Linked DNA regions of Homo sapiens. The protein of the gene in region 2 interacts with the protein of the main gene of each other region in a pairwise test. Each region holds a gene or a part of one and is shown on either strand. Other genes may lie near its edges.

The links.
Region 1: the proteins of JAZF1 (region 2) and NR2C2 interact in binary tests that used the Homo sapiens proteins (3 or more experiments, as listed by UniProt).

Annotation. Positions count from the first base shown.
Region 1 is NC_000003.12:15,020,577-15,027,621, forward strand, and holds part of NR2C2 (nuclear receptor subfamily 2 group C member 2), read left to right. Parts: intron 1-176; coding exon 177-356; intron 357-2,623; coding exon 2,624-2,771; intron 2,772-3,538; coding exon 3,539-3,632; intron 3,633-7,045. UniProt on the Homo sapiens protein: Orphan nuclear receptor that can act as a repressor or activator of transcription.
Region 2 is NC_000007.14:27,830,052-27,834,815, reverse strand, and holds the end of JAZF1 (juxtaposed with another zinc finger protein 1), read left to right. Parts: intron 1-1,839; coding exon 1,840-2,016; 3' UTR 2,017-4,239; downstream 4,240-4,764. UniProt on the Homo sapiens protein: Acts as a transcriptional corepressor of orphan nuclear receptor NR2C2. Inhibits expression of the gluconeogenesis enzyme PCK2 through inhibition of NR2C2 activity.

The DNA.
Region 1 (7,045 bases), on a different chromosome or scaffold from region 2:
ATTACGTGAAGGGTGTGGCCAGTATGCTTAATGCTCAGGCCACGTGGCTGTTGGCATCTAACAGTGTATGGCACCCATCACTTCAATGAGACTTGCACAGGAACTGACAGATCACCTCTTTGGTGAATCCACAAATATAGTCACAAAATATTTGTGTATTCTTTCTCCTGTTTCAGGCCGTCACTATGGGGCTGTCAGTTGTGAAGGTTGCAAAGGTTTCTTCAAAAGGAGTGTGAGGAAAAATTTGACCTACAGCTGCCGGAGCAACCAAGACTGCATCATCAATAAACATCACCGGAACCGCTGTCAGTTTTGCCGGCTGAAAAAATGCTTAGAGATGGGCATGAAAATGGAATGTGAGTAACAATATTTAAAAACCACATGAGTTAATGTGGAGGGAGACAGTAAATGAGTCCATTAAATAAGGTTTCTATACCTGGCCTTAAAATACTTTAAGAAAAAAATATGCACTCAGGCTTCATTTTGGTTTACCTCATGGGTCAGCCAGGTGATTGAGAGCCAACGCTGCAGGGGTTGGTCTCTTCCTGCTGTGTGTGTGGAAAGCCTTATTACAGATGCATCAGGAGGCAGCTTAGTGGAGTGGGTTGAACACAGGCTTTGGAGGAAAGCTGATACCAAATCTACCTCCAGGTGTGCCACTAAGAGAGAGCTATGATGCCTGAGGATACACGTAGCCTCTCAGCCACAGGGTCCTCATCTGTGATCTACTTAATCACCTTACTTATATATTGCTCCTGAGGATTACATGAGCCTACTCCCTGTCTTCTTAGCCCCTCTACTTTCTTTTGGGATAAGGTCCTTTGCCAAGCCTCTGTGTAGCTGGGATTCTAAAGAGAAAGCTATTGCTCCTGGATGTGTGGGGCAGCCAGGGAAGGTCTCAGGCCCCTCCTTTCCACTCCCATAGACAGAATTTTGGGGGTTTTCAGGGACCAGTCAGCATGGAGGTCACTTCCCTAGCTAGTGGTGAAAACATGAAGACCAGGACTCAAGATGGGCAGCACAAAGAAATCCAAGGAGAGTGGAGTTAGGCTTAAGCCACAGTAGGAAAATGGAGCTTAGCAGAGCAAGGCATGCAACTTGCATGCAACTTGCATGGCAAGGCTGGTGGCCGAGGACCCAGGACTGCAGGCTTCCGCTGAGTATGCTGCATGGTTCTGTCATCTTTTGCATAGTTTTCTAGGAACTCTGAAAACCAATATATTTCAGTATTGCTGTTGACGTTTCTGGGAACAGGAATCCACAAAATTCACTGGAGAATAAATGGAAATGTATTTTTTGAGAAATTAGAAATATCAACCTAATTTCTGCCTGGTGTGATGTTTTTATTTTATCTAATGATACTGCTCTTTGCCCAAAGTGAATAAATAAATCACTGACTTGGTGTGGGACTGGCCCACATTGCCAAGCTGTCCTTTTTCTCAATGATGAATATTTTTACTCAGAGCAATGACTGAAATCAGTTTTCTTGTGAACACAGCTGTAGCTGCAAACACAATATTCAACTGGATAGCAGTTTGATTAGTAGCATATCTGAATATTAGTCCCTGACCTTCATCAGTTTTGTCTTTAAAAAGCTTTCATTTTCTTCAGTTGCTTCTAACATGCATATCTGCTCTTACATTAGACTGCTAAAAGGAGAGTTTGCTAGCATAATATAAAATTGACACCCATTAAACAGTTTGCAGAAGCTATTCAGACTTGAGTTGGAAATTAGAAGGGTTCCTCTACAAATTGTGGCATAGGAAATGCATTCTATTAAGGGCCCACTTGAAGGTGGGCATTTCTTTTTTCTTTTTCTTTCTTTTTTTTTTTTTTTTTTTTTTGAGGCAGAGTCTTGCTCTGTTGCCCAGGTTGGAGTGCAGTGGTGCCGCGTCTTGGCTCACTGCAGCCTCCGCCTCCCAGGTTCAAGCAATTCTCCCTGCCTCAGCCTCCCAAGTAGCTGGGATTACAGGTGCCTGCCACCACACCTGGCTAATTTTTGTGTTTTTAATAGAGGCCGGGTTTTGCCATGTTGGGCAAGTGATCCACCCATCTCGGCTTCCCAAAGTGCTGGGATTACAGACGTGAGCCACCACCCCCGGCCCAAAGATGGGCATTTTTTTATCCTTGAAAGAGTCTATTTTGTTAGCAGCATGAAGTAAAAACCAGCTGGGCACGGTGGCTTATGCCTGTAATTCCAGCACTTTGGCAGGCTGGGGCGAGTGGTTTGCTTGAGCCCAGGATGAGTCCAGACTGGGCAACATAATGAGGCTTCATCTCTACAAAAAATAATAAAATAATAACATAAAATAATAGCATAAAATTAATAAAATGGCCCAGAAGGCTCATGGGTGCTTCCATAGGCCACATAGGTGCTGTGCTGCAGTTTTTTTTAGCAGGGAATACCACCCATCGTGAGGTCTTTTTTATGCCTCTAGATTTGACATGGCATGGTTTGGCTTTATTCCTTCTCTCTGGCCGAAAAGTCCACTGTGAAAGCTGAGCTAGATGAACCTAGCACCAGAGTCATCCTCCCTGCAGTAATGGATTTGGGGTTTTCCCTTGTGGTTTTTATTGATTGGAATTGTTTCTCTAAACACAAATATTTATGTTGTGATTTAAGCTGTGCAGAGTGAACGGAAGCCCTTCGATGTGCAACGGGAGAAACCAAGCAATTGTGCTGCTTCAACTGAGAAAATCTATATCCGGAAAGACCTGAGAAGTCCCCTGATAGCTACTCCCACGTTTGTGGCAGACAAAGATGGAGCAAGGTCAGTCCCTTGTTCTCACTGCAATCAGCCTTTGCAGCTGATGGAGGAGGCACAGACGTGTCCCACAGCAGGCACTGTTGTGGCTTCCCACCCATCTGCCATAGCCTCCAGCGTTGTGTTGCCTAATTCTGCCCCTTCTGGAGCTGCTCAGTCACACCTCTGGACAGGCCTGAGGATGCCTGATTTATGAAGGGGTCAGAAATTCTCCTAGCCTTGAATTCAGATTATGTCCTGCAATTTAGGCATCATTCATACGGAAGACAATTATTTTATGATTCAAGATTGGGGCATTTCTGCAGTACACACAAAAGGCCCAAGGTGAGATAAGGTCTCAGTGCTACAGTTAATTTGTATATTCTTTTTAATATAATCTATTGAACTTACTTTAAAAGGAACGGAAAGAGGGGAAAACAAGCAATCCAAAATGTATCAGAGAGAGAGCTGGAGTTGAGGATGCCTTGCTGATTTTCTGAAAATCAAGTTAACTTTTCTAGGCAGAATGGCCACAGTCTGCAGTCATCCTGGAAAGCCCTGGGGGATGCATCTGCATTTCATCCTGTCTCAAGCTGTAAACCTGACTTTATGTATATCTCATTGCAGAGAGACAGGGGTGGGGGTTCTGCTTAGTCACTAAGCGGCTGAGTCTACTTAGAGCTTTTCTACTATTCAGACAGCTTCACAAATGTGGAAGGACAGGTAAATGCAGCATGATCATACTGTGCATAAAATGTTGGAAGCTACTCTGAGTTTCTTTATGTCTTAAATAGACAAACAGGTCTTCTTGATCCAGGGATGCTTGTGAACATCCAGCAGCCTTTGATACGTGAGGATGGTACAGTTCTCCTGGCCACGGATTCTAAGGTGACGTTCTCTACTCATGCTCTCTCTCATCCTTTATGTTGACATTGCAGGCTGCTTCTCTAACTGTGTGCACCACTTTCTTCCTGGCCTTCAGAGACCACATCAAAAGCATGACCTATGTCTCGGTCTCCTTATTGTTGTGATAGCTATCTTGTGATTTGTTTTAGAGATGCTGATGGCTTCTCAGATCAGAGCTGGCTGGTCATAATCACTGTAACATGTCAGTCTAGATGTCAATTTGGTGGACATTCAGTGGTTCTCTTTTCTGTTATAGTTTTCTTTTTCTCTTATACACATTGGCAAACTACTAGCCAAGGAAAGAAATACTTATCAGATGGCCTTTTTGCAAAAGCCCCGGGTTCCTTTTTATTAGATGATCTTCAGGAGGAAGCTCAGCCAGGAATCTATCAGTTCCAAAACTTTGCTAGAGCAGATCAGTCATAGGGATTTAACTTGTGGACAGAGATGTTCGTCAGTCCAAAAGGGGGAGACTTGCTGGCTCCTGTGAAGATAACCAAGGAGGGGGATTTTTTCCAGGCCAGGGAACTCACTGTTTGTCTCATCCTGGTGCTCCTGATGTAAACCAAGTAATGAGGAAGTAGTAGCAGCAAGCCACAACTCTAAGAGGGTGACTTGGTAATTGAGAACACTGGCATTGCTGCAACCATTAGAACCAGAGCAAGGCCTGCAGGCTTCCTCCTCATCTGTTCACAGTCTCATTCATGGGTGTACTCAGGGCATTACAGGGCATCCTCTTTTGGGAAAGAGAAGACAAAATTTAGAGCCCTTGCCTGTCATGGAGAGCTGCCCTGCATGCCTTGGTCCTCAGGCTGGGCCTTGCACCTTCTGTCTTTGGGCAGGGGCCACATGCATGATGGGAGCTGATGGATCACGCATCGTGGGCTTAGCTTATCAGCAGCACACATTCTAGAACAGTGGCTCTGACTGCATGGTCAAATGCAGAGAAAGCGTAAGCCTGAAAGTAAGGCCCAGATAACCTTAAAAACAGATTACCAAGGGATTCACAGCAACCATTCTATTGGGCCATCCACACACAGACTGGGAATGAGAACCAAGACTCCAGAACTGGCTAGAACTGGGTTCAGAGTCTGACAGTGCTCTTCGTAGCCACATGCTTCTTTCCTGCACTTGTAAATTTCTTGGTACACAGTGAGCATTCAATAAATGTTAATGGTTAGGAATTAGTTATTGTCACTTTGGAGGAGAATGACCACAAAGCTGTATGGTATTTCAGGAATCAAGAGAAAGAGCTTCAGAGGCAGACTGTGTCCTACCCCATTCCTTCCTGTGTACAATGGAAACAACAATACCCCCCACAGAAGTTTGATACGAATAATAAAACATATGCAAAGCACCCACAGGAAGCTACTTTCAGAAACTGTTTTCCAATTTTACTTTGAAGTAATTATACATTTAAAATAATTTACTATGAAGGAAGTACAGTGCTATTACAGAGCTCCCACATAGCCTTCGCCCAGGTCCTCCCAGTGGTTATGTCATACATACCTACGGTACAGTATCACAACGAGGACATTGGCTTTGGTACAAACCATATGTATTGTTCTGTCTTTTTTATATTTCACTCTTCTTCAACTTCATTTCCTTCAACATACCTTTCTGTTAATGAGGATCTTACAGTAGCTGCACAGTATTCTATGTGTCTGTTGTGATTTAATCATTTCTGTTTATGACCTTTTCTACTGATTCTAGTTTTTCATTTTGTAATCAAGACATAACCTTGTGTGTACATATCTTGGTTTGAGTATATCTCTGGCTTTCTTTTCTTTTTCTTTTTCTTTTTTTTTTTGAGACAGGGTCTTGCTCTGTTGCCCAGGCTGGAGTACAGTGGTATGATCTTGGCTCATTGCAACCTGCACCTCCCAGGCTCAAGCAATCTTCTTACCTCAGCCTTCCGAGTAGCTGGGACTGTAGGTGCACAGCACCACGCCTGGCTAATTTTTCGTATTTTTTTTGTAGAGACGGTGTTTCACCATGTTGCCCAGTCTGGTCTTGAACTCCTGGACTCAAGCAATTCACCCACCTTAGTCCCTGCAGAGTGCTGAGATTACAGGCGTGAGCCACTACCCCTGGCTTTCTTTTTTAATTGAAATATAATTCACATGCCATAAAACTCACCCTTTTAGTGTATAATGTAGTGGTTTTTGGTATATTTACAAGGTTGTACAAACCATCCCCACTATCTAGTTTTAGAATATTTTCGTCACCTCAGAATAAACCCCAAACCCTATTATGTAGTCACTCCTCCTTTCCCCCTCTTCTCAAACCCTACCAACCACTAATCTGCTTTCTGACTCTATGGTTTTGTCAACTCTGTACATTTCATATAAAGGAAATCATACAATATATGGTCTTTTGTGGCTGGCTTCTTTCACTTAGCATGATGTTTCTAAGGGTCATCATGATATAGCATGTATCAGTACTTCATTCCTTTTTATTGCCAAATAATGCACCTCTGTTTTTTTTTAAAGACAAGAGTTTCGCTCTTGTTTCCTTGGCTAGAGTGCAGTGGTGCCACCTCGGCTCACTGCAACTTCTGCCTGCTGAGTTCAAGCAATTCTCCTGCCTCAGCCTCCCGAGTAGCTGGGATTACAGGCATGTGCCACCATACCCAGCTAATTTTGTGTGTTTTGTTTTGAGATGGAGTCTCGCTCTGTCGCCCAGGCTGGAGTGCAATCGTGCGATCTCGGCTTACTGCAGCCTCCGCCTCCCGAGTTCAAGCGATTCTCCTGCCTCAGCCTCCTGAGTAGCTGGGATTGCAGGTGCGTGCCACCACACCCAGCTAATTTTTGTATTTTTAGTAGAGATAGGGTTTCACCATGTTGGTCAGGCTGGTCTTAAACTCCTGACCTCACGATCCGCCCGCCTCGGCCTCCCAAAGTGCTGGGATTACAGGCGTGAGCCACCGCTCCTGGCCAATTTTGTGTTTTTAGTAGAGATGAGGTTTCACCATGTTGGGCAGGCTGGTCTCGAACTCCTGACCTTAGGTGATCTGCCTGCCTCGGCCTCCCAAAGTGCTGGGATTATAGGCGTGAGCCACCACGCCCAGCCTAATAATACACCTTTGTATGGCTATACCACATTTTATTTATCCATTAGTCAATTGATGGACATTTGTGTTGTACCACTTTACATTCTCACCAACTGTGTAGGAAGGTTCTCATTTCTCCACATCCTTACCAACACTTGTTATTATCCATCTTTTTGATTGTAGCCATCCCAGTGGATGTGAAGTGGTATGTCATTGTGATTTTGATTTGCATTTCTCATGATGTTGAGCATCTCTTCATATGCTTATGGGCTGTTTATATATCTTCTTTGGAGAGAAGTCTATTATCTTTGGGGTTTTGTTGTTTCATTTTGTTATTGAGACA
Region 2 (4,764 bases):
GGTTCTCGCCTGGGGTCTCATGCAGTTGCTCTAAGACACCAGTTGGGGCTAGAATCATCTGAAGGCTCACTTGGGCTGGATACACACGTTGGCCTCTTCACTCATGTGCCTGGGCCTCGGAGGGGATGGAACCGCCAGGGACTGGCAGGGCATATCTACCCATCTAACATTTCAGTGGGTCTGATTCTACCACCACCACTACCCTCCCCTTTCCTGCCCCAGTAGGCTCTGAAACCCCCAACATGCCTCTTAACAAGACTGAAGTACCTTATGTTTGAAAGGATTGATGCTGGAAGGACAGGGCTGAGGTGCAGAAGGCCTGGAGCCAGGTGTTCAGGGGAGAGTGTTTGTCCTTCTGCTTCAAATCACTGGACAACCTTCAGACTCTGAGCATAGCCAGCTGCTACTTGGCACCCCTGGGTTCAACAAAGTCCAGCAGAGTTCTCTTCCAAGGACTTTTAAAAAAGCATTCATGTGTACTGCACATCTCTAGTGTAGTAATCACCACCACGTTTATATTTAGTAGCAACCCTTCTTCCAGACTAGTGAGGCGTGAACTTGGGAAGTGCTGTTGTAACTTCATTCACTCACAAAGACTTAGCATCGACAATGTGCCAGGCACTGTGCTAGGTATTCATGAGACAACAGCAGGGAGCTGTTTTCTGGGAGCTCTTTGAAGGCATCCCATGAAGAGTGGGAACAATTTGTGTTGGAATCCTTCAGTTGGGCAAGGGACTGGCTCTAGCAGGACTGGATTTAGGTAATATTTTAGGAAACAGCTCACTCTCCTAAAATCTGTGCTTTTTGTTTCAGGCTGTCTCTTCTGTGTTCCCTTACTCTCTAATCTGGCAATTGCTGACTTGGAAATTAAGACCTATCTCAAATACCACACGTCCGCCGTCCCTTCTTAGATCTTCCACCAGTTACTTACTACCCTCAAGCCCATTTCCTCACCATTTAATTGGGATGAGGATTACTGGTGGTTAAAACTGTAGAGAGTGACTCTTACATAGAATACGGAATCTTACATAGAATATGCTGGTGAACTAGCAAAACCGACAAACAGAAATTTAGAAAGCATTTTGATAACTTTAGTATCCAGATGCTAAGAAGTCCAATCTTAGTGACTAACATTATATAACCTTAAATTTTTAAAGTTCATTGTATGTTTGGAATGTAATACTTAAGGTAAGGACTAGTCTGACTACAGGTGCTTATTAAACATGTACAACTGTACGGCGGGGACAAGATTTGGGCAACAAGTAGCTCCCACAGTGGCATCAGAGATACTGGCTTAGTGCAGAGCAGAAAACTGACAAAAACTCTGGTTAAGGCATGGTAGGGAACTGTTAACACAGTTATCTAGAAGCAAGCTGTAAATTGAGTTTCCAAATCAAAAATTTCTATATGTTAAACTTTTGGGATATGCCCTGATGTTTTTCTTTAGAAAGATATTTTGTTGGTCATGCTGAGGATATTTGTGTAGGATTGTTCACTGTTAACTTTCTTTAGAGTGGAAAAGATTCAGAGGATTTTCTTTATACAGTCTGTAAGTCCTAAATATATATTTTATATAAAATTGGAAGAAATCAGTACTTTCATTTTCAGAGTAATTGAGGCACATCTGAAATTTTGAGTCAGCTGTGTGTGTGACCATCCGTACAGCCCATGACCGACACACCAGAATGTCCTTGAAGGGTCCCAACTGGAGTCCTTGCAAAAGACTACACTCTAAACAGCTGCCATCCAGGAACTGCAATCCAGACCCAAATTGAGGTTTCCGAAGTTTGACAGGTATCCTGTGAATCCATGTAATAAATATTTTTGTCTTCTCCACAGAATGTGAATGGCATAAAGTATCACGCTAAGAATGGTCACAGAACACAGATTCGTGTCCGCAAACCATTCAAGTGTCGCTGTGGGAAGAGTTACAAGACAGCTCAGGGCCTGCGGCACCACACAATCAATTTCCATCCCCCGGTGTCGGCTGAGATTATCAGGAAGATGCAGCAATAACATGCTGGTCATAACTGTGCCAAGAAATCCTCACCAGCAGTTGCTGATTTTGAAAACAGCCACCTTTTTTCAGGGGAAGCATTCAGCAACCCTTTAAAGAAAAAGAATTAAATGCATGCTTTAAATTTTTTCTGTAATTTTGGAATGATGTATCTTTGTAGAGTTAATGATTTTGTACATTTGCACATGTAATCATCATACCCATTTTCATTACTTTGATATAAGGTGCTAAACAAAAAAAGCTCTAGGTTCTTCAGCACATTTCCCCCAAAACAAAATAAAATTGAGGGCATGTTGCATATTGTTGAATTGTATTGCGGTGGTATCAACCTGGGGGGAGGAGGGGCTGGCACTGAGATTTTTTTTTCAAGATTGTAATGTGATTGAAGTTTTCAACACATCAACTCACATATGTTCAAAACCAAAATAATACCTTCATTATCAAACTGGTTACCATGCCTTACATAATGGAGTTAGTATTTGTGAGTAGAAAGACTTTAGGTAATGGAAATATAAATAAGAAAGAATGTTTAACATAATATGCTAAAAATATTTTCATATTTAAATAACATACGTAAAGGTGTGCTTTCTGTGTTTTATATTATCTTGCAAATCCTTTTGCCCTTTAAAAAGCTGAAAATCTTGCCATCTGACTTACTAGTCATTTTAGTGTTATAAATGGCATTTTGTACAAAATAGTCTATTCAGTTCGTTCATTCATTTAACACACATTGATTGAGTGCCTGCTGGGTACAAGGGATTCAATTTATGCCTATTGATATCTGCGGACCAAGATACCCATTTAGTGAAATACTTTTTTCCCTGAAATCTGTTAGAAAAGACTTTGAAATACTTCAGTGCAAAGTGTGTGTGTGTGAAGTTTAGTTATATCTTCATCTTCAGATGAAGTTTTAAAGCACTTTGTAGTTCTCTATTGCCAACAATTTAATGTTTATGTGTTGCCAATTCTTGCAACCACTGCCCTACCAAACCTGTGGGTTGCAAATCAGAACTAAAATTCTAAGCACGTTTCAAAGATGAACACTTTTGTTAAGACCCCTATTGCCTCTTCTTCATGCTCATTTTTTACTTTTTTTAAAAGGTACTTTTCTCATCACATTGTAGAGAGGTCTGCATTCTCATTGGAAATGTCTGTTTAGCTTTATAAAACAAACACTTTGCTGAAATAGGAAAATGAGCCTTATTGACAATTAAGTGCTTCTTGCAGCAGGTGGTCAAAGAAAAGCATGACTAATACGACCTATTAGAGTAATCTACATCTGGACCATTCCTTAAGTTTTTCCTCACCGACAGTACCATCATGCCTTGAGTGTTCTTTTCTCCCAAGTGCTATTCCTTAAACACGAGAGTTTACCAGTTGCCTAATAATGCAATAAAAAATGCTTTGAGATAGCTAACTGCCCATAAAACAAACTCAAATTGCTTATAAAGTTTCTTCCCATGTTCCCATTTGATGAAAAGTCTTACATCACATATAACTGGGAAGCAGGGGTCCCTCCTCAATTTTCAGACATTTTGAAAGGATGACAGTTCTGTTTGTTAGATGAGTAAACCTCTATATTCATAAGTTCTAAAATCCTTCATTATGAGGGATTCAAAGTATTTATAAAAACACTGCCCTCTAAAAATTTCCTCAGATCTGAAGTATGGTCTTGGTCCTGAATATACAGTGTTATCCTATGTTTAAAAGGGTGATCCAGACATGAGACGCAACTAGTTGGTGCATAAGAAGGCCCCACTTGGCTATTTCATATCTACCTACAATTGACCAAAAAAAATTTTTTAGGCCAGCAATTATTATTTAGCTTCGCTCTTTCTAGTGCAAGAAACTGCAGGCTGGATCAGTAGTTCAACAGCTAAACAGTCATAAAATAGTCATTGTGCATGTTAAATTTCTTTCAATGCTTTCAAAGATAAATTCCAATTTCTATTTACTTATTCATTGTGACAGTATTACTAAACAGGTAAGGATGGGAATATTTTGTTATACTGTGTATAGTGAATGTATTGTACTGTGTCTGTGAAAACTGTGCTTTAAATTATATTTTCATATGTTTTGTTGGGGACAGAGCACATTAAGTCTGAAAGCAACAGAGGTTTGTTTTAGAACTGAAGGCAATTTAATCAAAATTCCTGTCAAGAAAAGCTGCTTATAAATGTAAATGAAATCACATTTAAAATAAACTGCCTCTGACCCAAAAATAAATATGGCTCTTTATTTTCCTTAGTGTCCATTATGAAAACCAGTATCAAGTTTACCATGGAAATTAATATATCCATTCAGTTCCTCATTCTAAGGCTGTTCAGTTGATGCATGTAGACTTTATTCCCTTACATTTTTGCTTAGATTAGATTAGGCTGTATTACTTTTCTGTCAATAACAAATTAAGCTTGGACTTACTTACTTAAACTATTTTAAAATAAGTTCTAGGCTAGTAAGATGAACAGTGTCTACTACTATAATAAATATTCCAAGGATACTTTTGGATTAACATGGTCCATAATTATTAACTCCAACAAAAATGCTCCCATTGTTGAACATATTTTACCTAAGTATATAACCTATCTGGAAGCTGAAAGTCTCCAAAGCTATTGCTTCCTAGGACTGCTGTGTCCTAACAGCTGGCATATGAATGCCTCATACTGGTTTGCCCTAGACTCAAAAAACTTTTTAAAGGATTCTAACAATATACAAACTCTGCTTCCACAAACAAATACAAGTGACGA